Linked DNA regions of Homo sapiens. The protein of the gene in region 6 interacts with the protein of the main gene of each other region in a pairwise test. Each region holds a gene or a part of one and is shown on either strand. Other genes may lie near its edges. The genes, in order: EIF3L, USP16, UPF2, YTHDF1, DSCAM, XRN2 and EXOSC10.

The links.
Region 1: the proteins of XRN2 (region 6) and EIF3L interact in a two-hybrid assay, tested with the Homo sapiens proteins (one large-scale study listed by BioGRID and IntAct).
Region 2: the proteins of XRN2 (region 6) and USP16 interact in a two-hybrid assay, tested with the Homo sapiens proteins (one large-scale study listed by BioGRID and IntAct).
Region 3: the proteins of XRN2 (region 6) and UPF2 interact in a two-hybrid assay, tested with the Homo sapiens proteins (one large-scale study listed by BioGRID and IntAct).
Region 4: the proteins of XRN2 (region 6) and YTHDF1 interact in a two-hybrid assay, tested with the Homo sapiens proteins (one large-scale study listed by BioGRID).
Region 5: the proteins of XRN2 (region 6) and DSCAM interact in a two-hybrid assay, tested with the Homo sapiens proteins (one large-scale study listed by BioGRID and IntAct).
Region 7: the proteins of XRN2 (region 6) and EXOSC10 interact in a two-hybrid assay, tested with the Homo sapiens proteins (one large-scale study listed by BioGRID and IntAct).

Annotation. Positions count from the first base shown.
Region 1 is NC_000022.11:37,855,919-37,859,418, forward strand, and holds part of EIF3L (eukaryotic translation initiation factor 3 subunit L), read left to right. Parts: intron 1-2,760; coding exon 2,761-2,822; intron 2,823-3,500. UniProt on the Homo sapiens protein: Component of the eukaryotic translation initiation factor 3 (eIF-3) complex, which is required for several steps in the initiation of protein synthesis.
Region 2 is NC_000021.9:29,051,828-29,054,988, forward strand, and holds the end of USP16 (ubiquitin carboxyl-terminal hydrolase 16), read left to right. Parts: intron 1-1,974; coding exon 1,975-2,131; intron 2,132-2,238; coding exon 2,239-2,360; 3' UTR 2,361-2,661; downstream 2,662-3,161. UniProt on the Homo sapiens protein: Specifically deubiquitinates 'Lys-120' of histone H2A (H2AK119Ub), a specific tag for epigenetic transcriptional repression, thereby acting as a coactivator.
Region 3 is NC_000010.11:11,920,810-11,924,309, forward strand, and holds part of UPF2 (regulator of nonsense transcripts 2), read right to left. Parts: intron 499-3,500; coding exon 489-498; 3' UTR 1-488. UniProt on the Homo sapiens protein: Involved in nonsense-mediated decay (NMD) of mRNAs containing premature stop codons by associating with the nuclear exon junction complex (EJC).
Region 4 is NC_000020.11:63,206,132-63,209,631, reverse strand, and holds part of YTHDF1 (YTH domain-containing family protein 1), read left to right. Parts: intron 1-3,500.
Region 5 is NC_000021.9:40,333,159-40,336,658, forward strand, and holds part of DSCAM (cell adhesion molecule DSCAM isoform CHD2-42 precursor), read right to left. Parts: intron 1-3,500. UniProt on the Homo sapiens protein: Cell adhesion molecule that plays a role in neuronal self-avoidance. Promotes repulsion between specific neuronal processes of either the same cell or the same subtype of cells.
Region 6 is NC_000020.11:21,306,331-21,309,830, forward strand, and holds part of XRN2 (5'-3' exoribonuclease 2), read left to right. Parts: intron 1-3,500. UniProt on the Homo sapiens protein: Possesses 5'->3' exoribonuclease activity. May promote the termination of transcription by RNA polymerase II.
Region 7 is NC_000001.11:11,066,118-11,068,869, reverse strand, and holds the end of EXOSC10 (exosome complex component 10), read left to right. Parts: intron 1-163; coding exon 164-225; intron 226-785; coding exon 786-862; intron 863-2,121; coding exon 2,122-2,152; 3' UTR 2,153-2,252; downstream 2,253-2,752. UniProt on the Homo sapiens protein: Catalytic component of the RNA exosome complex which has 3'->5' exoribonuclease activity and participates in a multitude of cellular RNA processing and degradation events.

The DNA.
Region 1 (3,500 bases), on a different chromosome or scaffold from region 6:
GCTCTCTAGCTTCCCACCTTTGACTTTCTTAGATGATGTCCTTTATATATGGGTGAGGTAGGCAAATCCAACTTCATTATTTTGCTTGTGGATATTCAGCTACCCTGGCACCAATTTATTTATTTATTTATTTTATTTTATTATTATTATTTTTTTTGAGATGGAGTCTCGTTCTGTCTCCCAGGCTGAAGTACAGTGGCACAATCTTGGCTCACTGCAACCTCCGCCTCCCAGGTTCAAGCGATTCTCCTAGGTTCAAGCAATTCTCCTACCTCAGCCTCCCGCGTAGCTGGGATTACAGGCGCCCGCCACCACGCCCAGCTAATTTTTGTATTTTTAGTAGAGACGGGGTTTCACCGTGTTGGCCAGGCTGGTCTCGAACTGCTGACGTCAGGTGATTCGCCCACCTCAGCCTCCCAAAGTGCTAGGATTATAGGCATGAGCCACCGCACCCAGCCTGCCCAGCTAATTTTTAAAAATTTTTTGTAGATACCGGGTCACACTTTGTTGACCTGGCTGATCTTGAACTCCTGACCTCAAGTGATCTTCCCAGAGTGCTGAGATTACAGGCATGCACCACTGTGCCCAGCCACATTGTCTTGATTACTATATTTTTGTAGTAAGTTTTGAAATGGGGAATTGTAGGCCGGGCGCAGTGGCTCACGCCTGTAATCCAAGCACTTTGGGAGGCCGAGGCGGGTGGATCACCTGAGGTCGGGAGTTCGAGACCAGCCTGATTAACGTGGAGAAACCCCATCTCTACTAAAAATACAAAATCAGCCGGGCATGGTGACACATGCCTGTAATCCCAGCTACTTGGGAGGTGGAGGCAGGAGAATCACTTGAACCCGGAAGGCAGAGGTTGCGGTGAGCCGAGATCGCGCCATTGCACTCCAGCCTGGGCAACAAGAGCGAAACTCCGCCTCAAAAAAAAAAAAAGAAAGAAAGAAATTGGGAATTGGTAAGTCCTCCAACTTTGTTCTTTTTTTTTTTTTCCCCAAGATTGTTTTGACTATTCTGGGTCTCTTGGATTTGCTTATTGATTTTAGGATGGACTTGTCAATTTCTGCAAAGTAGCCAGCTGGGATTTTGAGAGGAATTGCCTAGAATCTGAAGATCACTTTGGGGAGTATTGCCGTCTTAACAGTATTAAGTCCTCCAGGCCAGGCGCGGTGGCTCATGCCTGTAATCCCAGCACTTTGGGAGGTGAAGGTGGACGGATCACGAGGTCAGGAGATCGAGACCATCCTGGCTAACACGGTGAAACCCCGTCTCTACTAAAAATGCAAAAAAGTTATCTGGGCAGGCCGGCATGGTGGCGGGCACCTGTAGTCCCAGCTACTCGGGAGGCTGAGACAGGAGAATGGCGTGAACCCGGGAGGCAGAACTTGCAGTGAGCTGAGATTGCGCCACTGGACTCCAGCCTGGGCGACAGAGCAAGACTGCGTCCCAAAAAAAAAAAAAAAAAAAAAAACCAATATTAAGTCCTCCAATCTATGGACATGGGATGTCTTTGATTTATTTAGGTCTTTGGTTGCGTTCACCAGTGTTTTGTGTTTTCAGTGTACAAGTCTCTCATTTGTTTTGTTATAGCTAACGTTTTTTTGAACACTTAACTCCTTTTTTTTTTCCCCCTAAGATGGAGTCACGGAGTCTTGCTGTCTTGCCCAGGCTGGAGTGCAGTGGCGCGATCTCTGCTCGCTGCAACCTCTGCCTCCTGGGCTCAAGCAATTCTCCTGCCTCAGCCTCCCGAGTAGCTGGGATTACAGGCACCTGGCGGATTTTTTGTATTTTTAGTAGAGATGGTGTTTCACCATCTTGGCCAGGCTGATTTTGAACTCCTGACCTCAAATGATCCACCCGCCTCAGCCTCCCAAAGTGCTGGGATTACAGGCATGAGCCACTGCACCTGGCCTGAACATTTACTCTCAATTGACTAAACACAGAATGAGTTCAAAACTCATTCTGTGGCTGGGTGTCGTAGCTCACGGCTGTAATTCTGGTACTTTGGGAAGCTGAGGTGGGAGGATTTCTTGAGGCTGGGAGATTTAGACTAGCCTGAGCAACATAGGGAGACCCCCTTCTCTACAAAAAATTTTTTAAAAAAATTATCCAGGCATGGTGGCACATGCCTGTAGTCCCACCTACTCGGGAGGCTGAGGTGGAAGGATCACTTGAGCCCTGGAAGTCGAGGCTGCAGTGAGCCATGATCATATCACTGCACTCCAACCTTGGCAACAGAGCGAGACCCTGTCTTCAAACAAACAAACAACATTCTGAAATTAATATTTTCTTTCTTCCTTTTTTTTTTTTTTTTTTTTTTTTTGACATGGGGGTCTCACTGTGTTGCCCATGCTGGAGTGTAGTGTGATAATGGCTGACTGCAACCTGTGCCTGCTGGGCTCAAGCGATCCTCCCACCTTAGCCTGCCGAGTAGCTGGGACCATGGGTGCGCACCACCACGCTTGTCTAATTACTCTTGTGTGCTGGTTTTTTTATGCACTTGGATGGCAGAAGTCTCTAAATGGTGAAAGGAAATAGATCTGAATGAGATCTTAATCTCATCGACAGAGATTGAGGTTGATGGAGTCAAATGAGAAGTGGATTTTCTCATTGCATGTATTCTTGGGGCATATGCATAGCAATTTAGATGTTGTTTAGTCTTCAGAATTACCTTTATTCCTCCCCACCAAAGAGCTAAAGCTGCCAGGATACCCCAGTTTTATGGTTAGTGAAGCACCCTTCTGCCATCTCTTTCAGATGCTGTCTTCCTGATTTTATACAAAGAATTATACTACAGGCACATATATGCCAAAGTCAGTGTAAGTATTTAAGTGTCGCAGTTTTTTTTTTGTTTTTGTTTTTTTAACTCTGTGCTGTTTTTGTCCCTAGAACACAGTCATTTGTTTATATTGGTTCAGTGTCTGGGCATGATTGGCATGTTTTTGAGTTTTAAGAAGCGGTGGAAGGAACAGTTTAACCCAGAAAGCTGTTCAGACACACTAACGCTATATAACCTATGCATTCTTTTAAATTTCTCTGTCCCCACAATTCTCCTGGACTGGGCAATCACCCATGCACTGGTTATAGGCTGCCAGCCTCATAGGATATTTCCAGGTACCTGCTGCTGCTTCTGCTTGGGGTTCTTTTTCCCTTCAGAGCATTGAGCCTCTGTTTCTCTGAGATGTACATAACACTGTCACTGTATGCCAAGCACAATGCTAGGCACTTAGCACACATCTTCACATATCTAATTCTACTATCAATCGTGCAAAGTTGGTACCCGAGGTGCCAAGAGGTTACCTTTTCTCAAATTTATCCAGCTAGTAAGTGACAAAACTCCTTGAATCTAGACCAGCTTGTTATAACACCAGTATTCTACACATTATCCCAACTTTGAGCACTTGCTAGATTCTGTTCTTCCCGACTTCTAAATTATAGAGTACGTGAAGTTTCTTTTTTTTTTTTTTTTTTTTTGAGAGAGAGTGAGTCTCGCTCTG
Region 2 (3,161 bases), on a different chromosome or scaffold from region 6:
TCAAAAAAAAAAAAAAGTCTGGGCCAGTTGCTGTGATGGGCATAATGGAAGAGGCCGCTAAGGACAATTTATAAGATTATGGTCACATTGAGGACTATGACAAGGTACATGATCATTTATTATACTTTTGTTTCTTGGCAGTAGTGGCCATCTGGGTTTGGGGCATGGCAGGTACATTATAGGATTCAGGGTGAGGTTTTGTGATGAATTGGATATGGAGGAGATTATTTGTAAGTGATACATGTGATTGAAGTTCCCAAACTTTAATGTGTATGTGGGAATCAGACCTACAAATTTTGATTCTGTAGGTCTAGTATGGGATCAAAAATTCTGCATGTTTAATGTAAACTCTCAGGTGATGCTGATGCTGGCTGTTCATGGACCACATTTTGAATAGCAATGGTCTAGACTGCATATGGGAATTATATTATGTCAGTTTCCATGCTGCTGATAAAGATATACTGGACAAGATATACTGGGCAAGACTGGGCAATTTACAAAAGAAAGAGGTTTACAGTTCCACATGGCTGGGGAGGCCTCACAGTCATGGCGGAAGGCAAGGAGGAGCACGTCACATCTTACATGGATGGCAGCGGGCAAAGCAAGAGCTTGTGGAGGGAAACTCCCCCTTAAGAAACCATCAGCTCTCATGAGGCTTATTCACTATCAAGAATAAGGATGGGAAAGACCTGCTCCCATGATTCAGTTGCGTCCCAACGGGTACCCTCCCATGACATGTGGGAATTGTGGGAGCTACAACTCAAGATGAGATTTGGGTAGGGACACAGCCAAACCATATCAGGAATGAAGCCAAAAGTCTTCATAGGTGAGGAGAATATGAGCATTGGAGATCCTGTTAGGTTAAAGAGTACAGAATAGGTGAGATGAGAGTTGAATAAATAGAAGACTTGTGGACTAAGACTAAAAATAAGATTTATGTCCCTTCAGCTCAGGAGTTTGAGACCAGCCCAGGCAACATGCTGAAACCCCATCTCTACAAAAAATTAATTTAGCAGGTCATGGTGGTGTGCACCTGTAGTCCCAGCTATTCCAGAGGCTGAGGCGGGAGGATCACTTGAGCCCAGGAGGCAGAGGTTGCATTGAGCTGAGATCATGCCACTGCACTCCAGCCTGGGTGACGGAGTGAGACCCTGTCTCAAAAAAAATTTTATGAAGTTGAACAATTCTGAGTGATGACAAGCCCAGACTCTAGTCCTGGGTGTGGTTGACTAAAATGGAATGGCATTTAAAGTCCTGTGAGAATCATAGATGGACGGAGAAGTACTAAGTTCTTCAGTGAATATGGAGGCACAGATTGGGAAGCTGAGTATAGGAGACAGTACTACTGAAGGGCCGTGATGCCTGTTACGGACTTTTACATGAGAACATAAATAGTTGTCTGAAAAGTGGCTCCTGGCCCAGAGAATGCCTGTTCCTGTTGCCAGCCCTATGGCATATAGAGTCCTGAAAGAATAAGCAGCGTGCACTCTCTCGTGGGGAAAGTGAACACTTGAGAGGTTGAATGTGCTTCTCACCAACTCCCTTGGGGACATTTAAAGATGTAAGGGGTAATTTTTGGCACAACCTAAAATACTGTTCTCTTCCTGTTCAGGGCTTACCTTTTTTTAAACAGGGTATTCAGAGTTGTTAATAGCTAGGGTTGTTAAGAATTATCCTCAGGCTCCTAAAGAAACTGGCAAGTTGAATTCAGTTATTTGGTATCTGAGCCAGGTAACTGCATCAAGTGGCCTGTGGCTTACAGCTTTTCTACCAGGGGAACAATGGTGAATTTATAATAAAAACAGAAGTGTCTCAGGCTGAGAAGAGGTATGGAGAAAAGAGTAGACTCATGAATGATTTCTGCACTCTCAAAGTAATGGTTAAAGACCCTTTGCATAGTGTAAACTTGTCTTGCCCATGACATCTGTGTAAATGGAACTAGAACTAACTTTTGGATTCTACTCATTTTTAAAGAATGTTGCAGAAGAAAATACAAGGGTACTCTATTCCTTATATGGAGTTGTTGAACACAGTGGTACTATGAGGTCGGGGCATTACACTGCCTATGCCAAGGCAAGAACCGCAAATAGTCATCTCTCTAATCTTGTTCTTCACGGTGATATTCCACAAGGTAAGATGTCTTGGAAAATTCAGGCACTCAGCAGATTACGGCAAAACCAAAAAGTAATCAACTTGAATCTTTCCATTTATGTTTGATTTTTCATTTTCTCATGACAGATTTTGAAATGGAATCAAAAGGGCAGTGGTTTCACATCAGCGACACACATGTGCAAGCTGTGCCTACAACTAAAGTACTAAACTCACAAGCGTACCTCCTATTTTATGAGAGAATACTGTAATAATATCAAAAGCACTTTTTCTGGAAACACATTTATGGCTTTTATAATGGCTGAAATAACGATAAAAAAAGACTAATTAAAATCATGTTCACTTAACATTAAATACATGCCAGAAGAAATCATGTTTATTTAAATATTGAAGGGAAAAATACCTAAAAATGTACAAAGGTTTTATATTGTCATAGTGGTTTTTATTCCTGCTTTGTTTCTGGAAAGGAAATCCTGAATTACTTAAGTACTTTGTGTTTAATATATCTGGGTGATGGATCACAACACATCAATAAACTGACTTACCCTAAAATCTTGTTTTATTACTGGGAAGATTTTAACTTCTATTGACTTATCCTACTAGGTAACACTTTAAAAAATATTTCATCAGACTGGCTAATGAAGCTTCATTACAAGTGTGTTAATTTTTTTTTTTTTTTTTTTTTTTTTTTTTTGAGACGGAGTCTTGCTCTGTCGCCCAGGCTGGAGTGCAGTGGTGCGATCTCAGCTTACTGCAAGCTCTGCCTCCTAGGTTCACGCCATTCTCCTGTCTCAGCCTCCCGAGCAGCTGGGACTACAGGCGCCCGCCACCACGCCCAGCTAATTATTTGTATTTTTAGTAGAGACAGGGTTTCACCGTGTTAGCCAGGATGGTCTCGATCTCCTGACCTCGTGATCCACCTGCCTTGGCCTCCCAAAGTGCTGGGATTACAGGCTTGAGCCACCGCGCTGGGCCATACAAGTGTGTTAATTTTATAAGCATCTATATTGACAGCAGAATATAAATGGGAGCAATGTTTCTTTATAAGCCTT
Region 3 (3,500 bases), on a different chromosome or scaffold from region 6:
TTGCTCTATACTTTTCTACTGTAGTCCTGGAGCCCCCAAATGTATCTTCTTCCAACGTGGGATGTTCAATTCAGAGACACTGAAACTCAAATCAAGTTTAAAGCTCAAGTTCATTTCCCCCACACCATTACCATCACAACCCGTTTCTTCTCTGGCTCAATCATCTCCTTCACGCTCTCCTTGGTGTAACTGCTCAGTAGTCAAGTGAACCATCTCATTTCTTGACTGCCATTCTCAAGAGAAGATTAACCCTCGCGAGATTTCCATTACAAAAGGCCTTTTCCGCCTTGTCTGGAAGCGTCGGCTTGTTCCGGTGTTGGCAGAGGCTGGTGTTTCTGCCTCCTGGCCCCAGCCTGTCCCAGGTTTAGATTCGCAACTCTCTAGACCGACCTGCTGAGATGTGTCCACTGCTCTCATTCAATTGCTGGAGGACTCCACTAACCACAACATCAGATACAGGACCTAATGAAATGACACGTGCTGCTGGATCAACGTCTCCTAAAGGAACAAACAGGGTCACATCAGAGAGCTTACTGCCACAGGACAAAGTCCAGCAAGATGGCGTCTGCAACGCTACCCACCACCACCAAGTCACTCCCCCAAGTTACAGGTGGCCCTGGCATCTGCGGGTTCCACATCCATGGACCAAAAATATTCGGGGGAAAAAAACCCAAACAATAAAAAATAACATAAATATTAAAAACAATACAGTATATCAACTATCTCCATAGCATCTACACTTTATTAGGTATTACAAGTAATGTAGAGATGATGTAAAGTACACGGGAGGATGTGCATATGTTATACATAAATGCTACACCATTTTTTACCAGGGACTTGAATGTCTGTGCATTTTGGTGTCTGAGGGGATCCAGGAAGCAACCCCCTGTGGATACCGAGGACAACTGTAGTGCTTTTTTGAGAGCATTCATGCTCTCTACTGAGCTACAACTTAACCAGAGCCATTGGAGCAATGGCTGGAGGAGTGGCTCTGTTCTCTTCTACAACTTATTCTTAAGGTGCTAAGAATTCACAGTTTGTGTTATGGTTCAGTTGTGTATCCCCAAAATTCACATGTTAACACTGAACTGCAGGACCTCAGAATGTGACCGTATTTGGAAACAAGGTTGCTGTAGACGTAATTACTTCAGATAAGGCCATACTGGAGCAGGGTGGAGCCCTAATCCCATATGACTGCATCTCTATAAAAAGGGAAATTTGCACACAGACACACACAGGGGGAAAAGGCCACGTGAAGACAAAGGCGGAGACCAGGGTGAGGTATGACAAGGTATGGAAGCCAAAGACTGCCGGCACCCCCAGCAGTAGAAGGCAGGCCTGGAGCAGTCTTCCTCCAGGCCTCAGAAGGAACCAGCCCCGCTGACTCCCTGACCTCAGGTTTCCTGCCGGCGGCCTCCAGTGCTGCGAGACAACAGACATCTGTCGTTTAAGCTACTAGGGCTGTAATATTTTGTCATGGCAGCCCAAGCAGATGAACAGTTTGTTTCTTACAGAGCAAGCTACCTTAGCAAGAAACTTTCAAAGCGTTAAGATGCAAATATGGAAAAGTATATCCTCAGCTGGATAAGATCCGTAACTCTTCCAGAAATGAACTGATGGAAAGAACACAAGTATTCCCTGAGGGAATGAAAGAGAAGATTCAAGCATCTCTCCTGAAGTCAAGAAAAGGCAGCTATCTAACCTAGAATACTTTAAATAAATGCAGTAAATGACAGGAAAAAAATGTTCAAAATCTTTGCTAAGTAAGGTATAGTTATATCACTAGTTATAGTGTAAGGTGTCATTTGACTGGTTTATAAGCAAACAATCATTCTGAGTGACTCAAAAATCTATCAGCTCAAAAACTGTTTATTAATACAATATACACTTTGGATTAAATGCAATTCTACAATGGACTCTATTGTATAACAAAACTATCACTAATTTAACCTTACATAAAGATATATAAAAAAAAAATCTGATGAAAAAATGCAGACTCTACTTAAGATAGGTTTACAAGAGTTCAATATCAGCCTGGGCAACATAGTGAGACCTCGACTCCACTAAAAATAAAAAAAATTAGCCATTTGTAGTGGTGTGTGCCTATAGTCCCAGATACTGAGAGGCTGAGGCAGGACTGCTTGAGCCCAGGAGGTCGAGGCTGCGGTGACCTGTGATCACGCCACTGTACTCCAGCCTGGGTGACAGAGCAAGAACCTGTCTCAAAAACAAAATAAAACAACAACAAAATCATTTTTAAAAAGATGGGTTTAAAAGTCAGATAGTATACTCCTATGCCGCTAAGTGTAGGCCACACACCAGCAGTTTTGACATCACTGGAGATCTTGTTTAAAAGTAACCAGAGCTTGTTGTGCTCACTTCAGCAGCACATATACTAAAAATTGTAGTGATACAGAGAAGACTAGCATGGCCCTGTGCAAGGATGACATGCAGGTGGGGTGCAGTGGCTCACGCCTGTACCCTCAGCACTTTGGGAGGCTAACGCAGGCAGATCACTTGAGGTCAGGAGTTTTGGAGACCAGCCTGGCCAACATGGTGAGACCTCATCTCTACTAAAAATACAAAAATTTGGCTGGGCGCGGTGGCTCATGCCTGTAATCCCAGCACTTTGGGAGGCCGAGGAGGGTGGATCATGAGGTCAGGAGTTCAAGACCAGCCTGGCCAAGATGGTGAAACCCCGTCTCTACTAGAAATACAAAAATTAGCCAGGTGTGGTGGCAGGTGCCTGTAATCCCAGCTACTCGGGAGGCTGAGGCAGAGAATTGCTTGAACCCGGGAGGCGGAGGTTGCAGTGAGCAGAGATCACGCCACTGCACTCCGATATAGCGAGACCCCATCTCAAAAAAAAAAAAAAAAAAATTAGCTGGGCGTGGTGGCACATGCCTGTAATCACAGCTACTTGGGAGGCTGAGGCACAAGAATTGCTTGAACTCGGGAGGCAGAGGTTGCAGTGAGCCGAGATCCCGGCACTGCACTCCAGCCTGGGCAACAGAACAAGACTCCATCTCAAAAAACAACAAAAAAGAATGACACACAAATTCGTGAAGCTTTCCACAATAATTAAAAAATAATAATAAAAGAAACTAATCAGAACTTGCTTTTTAGTAAGAGTCTAGAGAGTTAATACGTATTTTAAAGTTTGAGAAGCATTGAAATAACCCATATGAATTAGTACCATCTAAGCCATGTAAGTATTAACACTTGCCAAAAATGTTAAGTTTCACAGATTTTCAATACTAGTGTATTAGAAAAACAACCTTGTTCTGCAATACAGAAAACCCTACATAATAGTTTTACTTACAGCACTGCTGCCGTTTCAACTCATTGTAAGCAAATGCCTCTTATTTGTTAAAGGGCTGAAATTTTAATTTATGTCCTTATTTCAAGGATCTCCTGGTTAGAAAATATACAAATACAAATTAAAATCTGGGAGTCCATCAAAAGCTACAGGAGAAAAATAGTTTATGCCGGGCGTGGTG
Region 4 (3,500 bases), about 42 Mb from region 6:
CTTCCTGCCTTATTTTTGATTTTTTGTAGAGATGGGGTCTCACTGTGTTGCCTGGGCTGTTCTCGAAATCCTGGGCTGAAGCAGTCCTCCTGCCTCGGCCTCCCAGAGGGCTGGGATTATAGGCATGAGCCACTGTGCCTGGCCGTGTCTTCATTTATAACAAAAAAGTTCAAAAAGTTAAAAAAAATTTAATAGAAAAAAGCTTATGGAATAAGGATATAACAAAAAAAATTTTTGTACAGCTATATGATATATTTGTGTTTACAAAAGAGTCAAAAACCTTAAAGCTTTTAAAAAAGTAGTTTGTAAAGTAAAAAAGCCATAGTAGGCTAGGGTTTATTATTGAAGAAAGGAAAATTTAAAAATTGAGTGTAGTGTTAAGTGGACGGTGTTTCTAAAGGTGACAGTGGTGTCCAGTGAGGGCCCAGGCCTTCACATTCTCTCCCTGACTCACCCAGTGCAACTCAGGCCTACCTGCTCCATTCACCGTAAGTGCTCTGTACAGGTGTCCCGTTCTTGATTTCTTATACCGTATTTTTACTGTACCTTTTCTGTGTTTAGATAATGTTTAGACACACAGATACTTATCATTGATGTACAGTTACTTCCATTATTCAGTACAGTTACACACTGTACAGGTTACGGCCTCAGTGTGTGGTAAGGATACTGCCTCCATGCTCACACGTCTCTGTTTGTGTGAGGACACTGATCACACAGTGACGAAATTGCTCATCAGGTTTTGGGTGGTTTTTTTTCACTGAACACAATGCCTCATCAGAGCATCTAGGACTTCTTTGAGAACAGCCTGGAGATGCTTGGCACAGGGCTTCCTGCTGTGCCTGGGCAGCTCTGGTGGGCCCGGGGTGACCTGAGGGCCAGCAGGGGAGTGTCAGTTTCTTGTGGCTGCATCTAAAAATATGGGCTTCCTTAAAATACCCAGTGGCAGCGCCTGCTAAGTAGGCATTTGCCATCACAACGGCTTCCCAGAAACGCAGCTGGAAGGACATAGTGGGATCTTAACGTGCTTCTTACTGGCAAGTTGCTGAAACAAATGCAGAAATTCTGTCAGAAACTGCTGTCTCTGCATATTGATGCCACCAGCTGAGGGGCTGAAATTGCAGCCTCAGAGGGACCAGTCCTGAAAACAGATCTGAAAAGTGAGCAGCCAAGTAAGTAAATTAGGGTTTTTCGGTTATTTTCCTCTAACATTTTCTCTGTGCTCCCTAAGGCTTCTCCTGAAGAACAGGTCATCCTGGTAGGCCTGTTCCCAGTCCTGGGTCAGAGCTGCTTCCCAGGAGCCATATCACTCCCTCACTTTTCAGCAGTACCCTTAATACTTTTCCATTTTACATAATTAATTATTTTGTTTTGTTTGTTTGTTTTTATTAAGCAAATGCTTCTCTCTGTTCCTCTTGGGCTTCTGAAGGGATCCTTTCTGCTTCTCCCTCTAGTCTCTCCTTTTGGTCATTCCAACTCCATCTCAGAAAAATGGATATAGGAAGTAAACTTAACCATTGAACTTCAACTTAAATGGTTCTGGTCATTCGGATGGAAGTTTCTTTTTTTTAATGTGGTTAAATTTGAGTAAATATGTAAAACTGCTCTTAGTTCTTTTTTGTTTGTTTTTGTTTTTTTTTTTTTGAGACGGAGTCTCACTCTGTCACCCAGGCTGGAGTGCAGTGGCGTGATCTTGGCTCATGGCAGCCTTCACCTCCCAGGTTCAAGCGATTCTCCTGCCTCAGGCTCCGGAGTAGCTGGGACTACAGGTGCCTGCCACCATACCCGGTTTAGTAGAGACGGGGTTTAACCATATTGATCAGACTAGTCTCGAACTCCTGACCTTGTGATTCACCTGCCTCGGCCTCCCAAAGTGCTGGGATTACAGGCCAGAGCCACTGTGCCCGGCTAAAAATGTGTTAGCCTTTCTTCGATGAGGTCGTCAGTTCTCCGCAGGGGCTGCAGTGAGGCGCCTAGCATGTGGAAGTGTTCAGCAGTCTTCTGTGGAGGCGGCTGCAGAGTAACAGGATCATGGTTTTGCTTGTATTGTCCTTAAAAGATCTGTTTATGCCACTCATTTACGAGGACCAAAATATGCTTGCTCAGAGGTAGTAATGTGTTAAGAACAAGCTTTGAATTTGTTCTTTTTTTTGGAGGGGGGTGGGGGGGACAGAGTCTTGCTCTGTCACCCAGGCTGGAGTGCAGTGGCTCGATCTCGGCTCACTGCAAGCTCCGCCTCCCGGGTTCACGCCATTCTCCTGCCTCAGCCTCCTGAGTAGCTGGGACTACAGGCACCCACCACCACGCCCGGCTAATTTTTTGTGTTTTTAGTAGAGAGGGGGGTTTTACAGTGTTAGCCAGGATGGTCTTGATCTCCTGACCTTGTGATCCGTCCACCTCAGCCTCCCAAAGTGCTGGGATTACAGGCATGAGTCACCGTGCCCGGGGTTAATGCAGCTGTATCCCTGAGAAGTAAACTTTCACACTCATAACTCAGTGCCCATGGAGCCGTGGCACTAAGGAATGTTGAGGGAGCAGCACAGCTCGCCTCCAGCACTTGGCAGCGAGTGAGCGCTGAACCTGTGCCTGGCTGTGCGGGAGACAAAGGGAGATCAAAGGCCCTGAAAGGAGGCTGCATGTGTTTTCCAGGCAGCCCGAACTGTGCGTTTCCAGTTGTCTCCCACGCACTGTGACCAGGACTGTGAATGGGACAGCTTCCCTCACCAGGGAAGGAGTGTGGGGCAGCAGCCTGACATGTGGCTCATAAAGAAGGCAGAGGACAGCATCTCCAGGTTTTCTTATGTACAGAATGACTGACTTCACATAGCTTTACAAATTAACCTGCTTCTTTACCTTCAGAGTTTTGGAGGAAAGATGGCAGATGTAATAGGAAATGGGCTGTCAGTGAGATTGAGGTAAAAATGGAAATCCGGCCCACAGAACCCCAGGTCACTGTATCCAGCCTGCCTGTGTGGCCGTGGAACCCGGTGAGCACAGAAAGTATCAGGAGGGTTTAGGGCTGCCAGCAGAGCTGATTAGCGTCACCGTCTTCTGTGGCTCAGGATGTGAATGGTGGTGATCTGGAGCTGAAGGATTTGCAGAGTACTGGCTAGAACTGCAGGCCCTGCACCTTGGGTAGAGGGAAGCTGGATGGGTCATTTATGGGCTCTCTGTCTGTGCAGCGTGTGTGCTAGGTGTGTCCATTTAATACTTAAAACGGATTTTCAGGAATGTTACATGCCTCATGTAATGTGGATTTTTTCATGTGGTAAGTGATGTCCTGTCTTAGTTAAGGCTTTAGGTGTAAGTCAGAAGTGTCCCTGGGCATCTGTTTCTGTGGCCTGACTCCTCTGGTTGGTGTTGGGGCCAAGTGGATTAGAATACCACACAGCCATCGAGGTCTTTTTTTCCCATCTGCTCTTTTTGCGTGGAAGGAAGATGTGTTGTGATTGCAGCGCTGCTGAGGAGCACGTGTCCAGCTAATGGGAGGAGGAGGGCTGGCT
Region 5 (3,500 bases), on a different chromosome or scaffold from region 6:
AGTCTCTTTCAATCCTAATCCACAGGGAAAGCCAAAATTCTAAGTCTTTTCCTAAAATTTAGCTAATTTCTTATCTCCCTCCCCTAATACTTGGTAACTGAAAATAGTAAAGGTTAATTTTTAAAAAGCCTTGATAAACTACAATCCTGACCATTGGAGTATAATTTACTTTATATATTAATATTTCATTTAAAAACATTTTACTGATCGATCGATTGATTGATTGAGACAGAGTCTTCCCTGTCACCCAGGATGGAGTGCAGTGGTGCTATCTTGGCTCACTGCAAACTCCGCCTCCTGGGTTCAAGCCATCCTCCCTCCTCAGCCACCTGAGTATCTAGGATTACAGGTGTGTGCCACCATGCCTGGCTAATTTTTGTATTTTTAGTAGAGACCAGGTTTTGCCACGTTGGCCAGGCTGATCTCAAACTCCTGGCCTCAAGTGATCCTCCTGCCTCGGTCTCCCAAAGTGCTGAGGTTAAAATATTTTAAAATGTAAACTTAAATGTTCAGAAGTCATTTTATTTAAGACCCTTCTAAGTTCTGAGTAAAGGCTAAGATTGCGAATGGTGTAAAACTGTTACTGTGTTTTGGAAGTAGTTCACCACAGTCTTGCACTCCTGGCCTCAAGCCATTCTTCTGCCTGAGTCTCCGGAGTAGCTGGAGCTACAGGTGCGTACCACATCACACCTAGGCCTCCCAAGTAGCTGGGATTACAGCAGTGAGCCTCTGCACCTGGCTGCTTAAGCAAAGGTAATTTGGGTTCTCGCACCTTGCAACCAATGGGGTCATAGTCAATACATGGATCTGTGCCAATCTGGGAAATCTAAAAATAGGTAAACTTACATTTCAAACAGTCCTTGTTTGAATTTTTGTCAGACTTTATTTTCAGATATTTGGTGAAGGGTTCTAATGTGAGCCTGACTGGGGGCTGGGGAAGCCTGTACATATGAAGTTAAAATCTGCGGTGTAGTGCACAAAGTCCCCTGAGGGTCCTGTTCAGGCCTTGGTGTTGAACATCATCTATTCACTGATGTCACCAGATCTGCAGCCTGGATTCCTGAACTCTACTCTCCCATATCTAATTTCCTACTGACAGCATCCACTTCTTTGTTTAGTGTGTATTTCAACCTCAACACATCGATAACTAGACTCCTAATCGCCTTCCTCAAACGGCTCCACTGCATCTTCTGCTGACTCAGTAGAAAGCAATGCCATTCTTCCTGATATTCAGGCCAGAAGCCTGACCTGATCCTTGATGTCTTTATTTTCCTCACACCTGTATCCAACCACTAGGAAAACCGACTGAATAGACCTTCGAAATAGATCCGGAGTCTGTCTTCTACCCCCAACCTCCTCTGCTCTCCCCCTGGTCCAAGCCACCATCATCTCTCACCTGGATTCACTTTCCAACAGGTCATTCTACTTGCCCCCTTTCCCCGAATAGACCATTCTCAGCACAGGAATCAGATGCGTCCTTCTTCTTTTTAGAGATGGGGTCTCACTATGTTGCCCAGGCTGGAGTGCAGTGTCTATTCACAGGTGCAAATATAGTGCACCACAACCACAACCTCAAACTACTAGACTGGAAGTATTCTCCTGTCTCAGCCTCTGGAGTATCTGGGACTACGGGCTCGTCCCACCTTGCCTGGCTAAAAGCATCCTTTTAAAACCTTAGTCTGGCCATGTGACTTTTCTGTTTAAAGTCATCCAATAAAGCCCCCATCTCACTCAGCAGAAAACCCCACGTCCTGAAAACCGAAGTCCTGATCTAGTAAGTCCCCCGTGAAAAGGTTCTGCTCCTTCTGACTCAGGGCCTTTTAGTGTTTTCTTGTTCACTTGGCTCCCACCACACCAGCCTCTCTGTTATTCCTCAAGCTTGCCAGGCAAACTCTAGACACCGTGGTTGTATCTCTTCCCTTTACCTAGGATGTCCCTTCCCCAGGTATCCATGAGCTGTCTTGAACCCCTTCACATCTTTGCTCAAAATCTCACTTTTTCCAGGCAGCTTTTCCCGACTATTCTGAAAAATTTGGCAAGCCCCAAATCCCAACAACTGCCATTTCTCTCCAGGCAATAAAATACCACATAAAATAATATTTTCCTTCTTTTGTTTGCAAGTACTTGCAAAGGAGCTGACAAGTTTTATACTATATGATAAGTATTCAGAAGAAAAGAAGCTCCTGAAGAAAAAATTATTCAATAGAATTATTTCCTAAAATCATAAATATATTGTTTATAAGAGACAATAAATTATTCTTTTGGCCATAAGCTAGTTTGAGTTGGTTTCTGTCACTTCAAAAGGATTAAGATGAATACATTCATTTATACTGATCTGGCAAATTTAAAGAATAAATGTTAATGATTCAAAGGGCTTTCGTTTAAATCTATGTCTCCTAAAAATTACATTAAAGTATTATACCTATTTATCCAATGGTCATACTTCTGGAAATTTTTCTCGAAAGAAATAATCTTAAAATCAGACAAAGGCCAATGCATAAAGAAGTTCATTTGATGCCTCATTTGTAATGGTCAAACATTAAAAATAAACTAAAATTTTAGCACTGTATTAGATGTTTTCAAAATGTAGCTCACAGACCTGTAGGGATCCCTGAGACAATTTTAGGTGATCTGTAAGAAGAAAATCGTTTTCATGACAATGCTGAGGTGCTGTTTGCCTTTCTCATGGTGTTGACATTTGCACTGTTGGAGCAAAAGCCATGGTGGGTGAGACTGCTGGGCGTTACCATGAATCCCAGCAGGGACACTAACAGGATGACTATTCATTGTACTGTTTACCGATGCATACTGTGAGTTGGTTTTTTAAAAATGCCAGATTCACTTACAGACACTTGACGAAGCAGGAAACATAACAGTTTTATTACATCTTTACCCTAAAGCTCACGTTATTTTTAATGTTCTATGTCCTGTGTAATAAAATGGGAAGAAGGCACAGTGTTTCCTCCACCTCCTGAGCAGCACGGCTATTTTCAAGCAGAGTATGTCTGTGCTTGCTTGAGTTGCAAATTCGACCAGCTGCTTTTCTTCATGGAATTCCATTTCTTTCTTAAAAGAATGGCTACCTAAAAACGATGGTTATGCGGTCTTTTCTATTTGTCAAACAATTTCTTACAGATAAATGAGCCCATCACTCCTACAATTACAATTGATGGTGTTTATTATAAATAATAAAATTGAATCTTTCAAGAAAGAATAGAATTTTAGAAAACTTGCATCCATCAGCATGAACTTGACAGTTTACTTGAAGACTTTCTGATGAGATCATGGTAATGTTAGTAGTTGTGATATTTTGATATTGTATAACAAATTGTATCAACATTTGGAAGATCTGTGTAACACAGTGAACCAATCATTTCCAAATGATCAACTTTTTATGTTACAAAATCATGTGTGGGTAAAACATTCCTTCCAAGGGTATGATAGACCAATGAATTTTAAGATGACAGAGTACAGAAAATGTGTTGATATGGCATCTGACT
Region 6 (3,500 bases):
CACCATGTTGGCCAAGCTGATCTTGAACTCCTGACCTCAGGTGATCCACCAGCCCCTGCCTCCCAAAGTGCTGGGATTACAGGCATGAGCCACCGCACCTGGCCAGGAATTCCAGTTTTAATATTAGGTTCCCTCAGAACTTTGAAAGAAATTGTTCTTTTGTACTCTCTCATCTAGTAGTGTTGATGACAAGTTCGGTGTTAATGTGATGTATTTATTTAACCAGCAGTTATATAGCATTTACCATTGTTTTAAGAACTTTATTATAACTTGTTTGATCCTCACAACCACATGACTTCTACTGTTGTAATTATTTTTATTACATACAAATAATAGAAGCACGTTATTTGGAGACAACCAATATTGTTATTATGTTATAATAATTACTATGTTTATTGGCCGGGTGCGGTGGCTCACGACTGTAATCCCAGCACTTTGGGAGGCTGAGGTGGGTGGATCACGAGGTCAAGAGATCCAGACCATCCTGGCTAACATGGTGAAACCCCATCTCTACTAAAAATACAAAAATTAGCTGCGCATGGTGGCGCGCCTGTAGTCCCAGCTACTTGGGAGGCTGAGGCAGGAGAATCACTTGCACCCGGGAGACAGACATTGCAGTGAGCCGAGATCCCGCCACTGCACTCCAGCCTGGTGACAGAGCGAGACTCCATCTCAGAAAAATAATGATTATTGTTATGTTTATTATTATTTCAGATGAGAAAATGGAAACACAGCAGGGTCGCGTATCATACCCAAGGTCACTCAGCTGATAAATGTCAGAGCTAGTGTGGAAACCAGAAGGACTTAATTTTTATGCTCATATGCTTTCATTCTTTTGTGATCAGTTTTCCTTCCTAGATTTTAAAAAGATCTTTTTCTTGATAGTGTAAACTTTCATTATTAGGTACCCAGGTATAGATGTTATTTTAAATTCAGATTCATTTTGATCAGTACGTGGCTCACTCTTTGAGTCTGGAGTCTTACGTTCTTCGGTTTTAGGGAATGCTGTTTGATGATTTCTTGACCTTTTTTTCTTCCCTTTCCAGACTCAGGATACTGGTCCTCTTAGACTCATGTATTTTTATTTTTATTTTCTCTCTCATTCTCTGGCTTTCCTTGAAACCTCCCCCAACCTTTGGTGTTTTTGCAGCTTTGTTGAGGTATACTTGACATAGAATAAACTGCAGGTAATTAAAGTGTACAATTTTCTTTTAACTTTTTTCGAGTTGAGGTCTTGCTCTGTCACCAGGCTGGAATGTAGTGTGCAATCATGGCTCACTGCAGCCTCAAAGTCCTGGGCTTAAAGTATATAATTTAATACAGTGCATACATCTGTGAAACCAGCACAACCAAGACAGTGAACGTGACCTCTAAAACATTCCTTCTGCCCTTTTGTAGTTCCTTTCTACTATCCCTCCCTGCCACCTGTCTTTTGCCAACCACTGACTGGTTTGCTTTCTGACCGTATGATAAGTTTTCATTTTCTATAATTTTTTATAAATGAGATTATATAGTATATACTCATTTTTTGCCTCAGTTACTTTCATTCAGTATACTTATTTTGAAATTCTTCCGTTGTTGTATGTGTCAGTAGTTTATTTCTTTTTTGTTTTTATTTTTTTTTGAGATGGAGTCTCGCTCTGTCGCCCAGGCTGGAGTGCAGTGGTGCGATCTCGGCTCACTGCAACCTCCACCTTCTGGGTTCAAGCAATTCTCCTGCCTCAGCCTCCCAAGCAGCTGGGATTACAGGCACATGCCACCACACCCGGCTAATTTTTGTATTTTTAGTAGAGATGGAGTTTCACCATGTTGGCCAGGCTGGTCTTGAACTCCTGACCTCAAGTATCTGCCTGCCTCGTCTTTTAATTTTTGGATAGTATTCTGTGTGTAGATACACCACATTTTATTTATTTATTCAGATGATTGATGAACATTGGGATTGTTTCCAGTTTTTGGCTTTCTGAAAAAGAAACCTATGAACATCTCTGTACAAGTCATTGTAGGGACGTATGCTTGCATTTGTTTGGGGGAAAAACATTAGGAGTGAAATGGTTGGATTGTATATTAGGTGTGTGATTACTTAAAAAGAAAAACCTGCCAGACTTTTTTTTTCAAACTGGTTGTGCCATTTTACATTGGCATCAGCAGCATATCAGGGTTCCAGTTGCTCAACTTCCTCACCAACACTTGATATAGTTAGCCCTTTTAGTTTTAGGTAGTCCAGTGTACTGTTACCTTATTGTGGTTTTAACTTGCATTTCCTTCAGATGCTTATTTGCTTTCTGTATATCATCACGGGCAGGGTGAGGCATCTGTTCAGATCTTTTGCTCATTTTTATCTTCGGTTGTCTTACTTAAATGTAGAGTTTGTTACATATTCTAGATAGAAATCCTTAGTTTGATATATCTTTTGCAAATATTTTCTCTTGATCTGTGGCTTGTCTTTTTACTTCTTAACAGTGTCTTGGGAGCAAACATTTAAAAATTTTAATGAAGTCTGATTAATTTTTTCCCTTTATATTTCTGCTTTTTGTATTTAAGGAATCCTTTGTCAAAGCCAAGGTCTCCTGTGTTTTCTTAGAGAAGTTTTATAGTTTTACTTCATTCTGTGGTTTCCATTTTTTGGTCTAGTCATATGGTGAATTATCGGTCTTTAAATGCTAAAGCCACCTTGCATTCCTTGGATAAACCTCACTTGATCATGTTGTATTATTTTTATATACGTTGAATTCAAGTTTGCTAAAGTTTGCTAAAGTTTTCTTGAGAATTCTTGAGAATTGTGTCTCTGTTCACAAAAGATATTTGTAGCATTCTTGTAATGTGTAGTTGAGATGTCAGAATAATGTTGACCTCAAATTGAGTTCCTTCAGTTTTTTGGAAGAGTTTGTGTAGAGTTAGTATTGTTTCTTCCTAAAATGTTTGATAGAATTTACCAGTGAGGCCATCTGGACTTGGAGTTTTGTGGGAAGGCTTTAAGCTGCAAATTAAGTTTCTTTAGTTGATCTAGAACTATTGAGGTTACCTATTTATTTATTTATTTATTTTTTGGATGAGCTTTTTTAGTTTGTATCTTTCACAGATTTTGCCCATTTCATCTAAGTCAAGCTTGTCCAACCTGTGGCCTGCAAGCTGCATGCAACCCAGGATGCTTTGAATGCGGCCCAGCACAAATTCGTAAACTTTCTTAAAACATCATGAGATTTATGCACAGACCTTTTCTTTTTTTTTCAGCTCATCAGCTGTCGTTAGTATTAGTGGCCCAAGACAATTCTTCTTCCAAAGTGGCCCAGGGAAGCCAAAAGATTGGACACCCCTGATCTAAGTAGTTGAATTGGCTGACATAAAGTTGTTCATAGTATTTTCTTACTATCCTTTTTTTTTTGTTATTAAAATGTTTTCACTCCTGTTTTTACTTCTCTTTTGTTTTCTTTTTTCTTCCTGTTAACTTGTTATTATCCTTTTAATATTGTTAGAATCTGTAGTGATGTTACCTCTTTCAT
Region 7 (2,752 bases), on a different chromosome or scaffold from region 6:
GTATTCATTTATGTGAGCCATGAGCCCTAGCCCCTCATCGTGACAGGGGTGCTCTCACAGCCAAGGCTTCCCTGAGTGTCATGGTCCCGGCCTCGCTGTGAGCCTGTGATGTGTGGTAACTCATTGACCTGACCGCAGGTCTCTCTCATCTCTTACCTTTCAGGAAACAGCAAATCCAAAGTTTCTTCTCAGTTTGATCCAAATAAACAGACCCCGTCTGGCAAGGTAAGAACTGCTCCTGGAGGATTTTAGCACGCTGGTGGCGCCTGTTTCTGACCTCCTCCTCTGCTGAGAAGACAGGCCCATCCAGGAGTCCATTCCTTTGCATATCTTTTTCCTCACCTCATTTCTTCCCAAGGGCAGACAGTACTGATCAGCTACCCCAGCAACTCATAAAACGAGGCTGTAAAAGCTGGCATGTGGCTTTAAAGGGTATTATTCTGTGTTTGCTACCATGGGAACTATAGCTGCAGGCCAAAAGCACCCCCTTTGGGGCCAGCACAAGCCTGCATTCACCCCTCGTGGGTGTTGGTGCTGGTGCCAGGGAAACAGCGTGGCTGTAGCTTCCACAGGCGCGGGGGCAGGGCTGCTTTGGGGTGCTCCTGTTCCTCTTGCAGCGCATCCTGGCGGCCTTGCCTTCAGAGACACAGAAACATCCTCTCTCAGGGGATCTAAAGTCACTCCTGTGCTGCTAGAATCTTTGGCCACCTGAGCTCAGGTGTGTTTTTCTGTGTATCTTGTGGTCAAGGTGCCCACCCAGCTTAAACGGTTTCTTTTCTTTTCAGAAATGCATTGCAGCCAAAAAAATTAAACAGTCGGTGGGAAACAAAAGCATGTCCTTTCCAACTGGAAAGTCAGACAGGTATGTGGTGGACGGCGGTGTGGCCCAGGGAGCCCAGTGAGAAAGCACCTGCCCTGCGTGGTGTGGTCCGTGGGGAGTAGCTGGGGAGCGAGTGTCCAGGGGTCTTCAACCAGGATGACTCAGAGAACCTCCCACAGCCAGGTCCCTCACGCCACTCGGAAAACAAGGGCGGGAGGTGATTTGCTCTGTGCCATACATCACAGAGCCAGGCACTGCACCCCAGGACTCAGATTCCCCTTGTTCCTGGCTCTCTAGTTACCGTGTGTCCTGGGGTCACCTCAGGGAAAATAGGTGTAAATAGTTGTGAAATTTTCCTGGACCAGCCTATTAGGAATGAGGAAAAAGTAAGCACATGTGGGTTATCCTTGTTGTTGAAGAGTGGTTTGGCTTGGTTTGGTTTTGTTTTGTGAGAGTCTCATTCTGTCACCCAGGCTGGAGTGCAGTGGCACAATCTCAGCTCACTGCAACCTCCACCTCCTGGGTTCAAGCAAGTCTCTCACCTCAGCCTCCCGAGTAGCTGGGATTACAGGTGCCTGCCATCATGCCCGGCTAATGTTTTTTTTTTTTTTCTTCTTTGAGATGGAGTCTCGGTCTGTCGCCCAGGCTGGAGTGCAGTGGCACGATCTCTGCTCACTGCAAGCTGCGCCTCCCGGGTTCACGCCATTCTCCTGCCTCAGCCTCTCGAGTAGCTGGGACCACAGGCGCCCGCCATGATGCCCGGCTAATTTTTTGTATTTTTTAGTAGAGACGGGGTTTCACCATGTTAGCCAGGATGGTCTCGATCTCCTGACCTTGTGATCCGCCCGCCTCGGCCTCCCACAGTGCTGGGGTTACAGGCGTGAGCCACCGCGCCCGGCCTGTTTTTGTATTTTTAGTAGAGATGGGGTTTTGCCATGTTGGCCAGGCTGGTCTCAAACTCCTGGCCTCAATTGATCCTCCCGCCTTGGCCTCCCAGAGTACTGGGATTACAGGTGTGAGCCACTGCACCCAGCCAAATGTTTTTGTTAAAAACATAAAATCCTAATAATTAAGCCGACCCTGAGGTCAGGGGACTTGCCCGAGGGCAGGAAAAACAGGTCTGCCTTCTCAAGATGCTGCTCAGCTCAGCCAACTCTGGTGGGCCGCCGAGTTCTCTGGGGCCCCTGAGCAAACCATTCTTCCTCTGTTCTGCATGATTAAGATTTGCACCATTTTGTAAACCATCTGAGAACATCCAACCAGCCCGGAAGAAATAACTGTTGTTTTTGTACTCTCTGCAGAGGCTTCAGGTACAACTGGCCACAGAGATAGTCCTGGAAGACACGTGGCGCCTGTGGACCGGAAGCACCAAATGCTGGTGCTGCTTTTGTACATACATATTTTTAAACCATTAAAATTCTTCCTGAAGAAAGCTGATTCCTGACTTTTATTTTGTTGCCGCCACAGCTCTGGCAGGTTGCCATCCTGTTCAGGCAACCATCTTCAGCTGTCTGTGGGCAGGTGAGTGTGCTCCGGGGGTTATGGTGACTTCTAGAAAAATCCAGAGCCGGCCGGGTGCGGTGGCTCACGCCTGCAATCCCAGCACTTTGGGAGGCTGAGGCAGGCGGATCACGAGGTCAGGAGATCGAGACCATGCTGGCCAACACGGTGAAAGCCTTTCTCTACTAAAAATACAAAAAATTAGCCGGGCATGGTGGTGGACGCCTGTAATCCCAGCTACTCAGGAGGCTGAGGCAGGAGAATCGCTTGAACCTAGGAGGCGGAGGTTGCAGTGAGCCGAGATCACGCCACCTCATTTGAGCCTGGGCAGTAGAGCAAGACTCTGTCTCAAAAAAAAAGGCAAATGCAAAGAGAAAATTTTAATCATTTGTAGTCCTGTCACACAAAGATGCTTTTTTCCTTTTTTTGAGA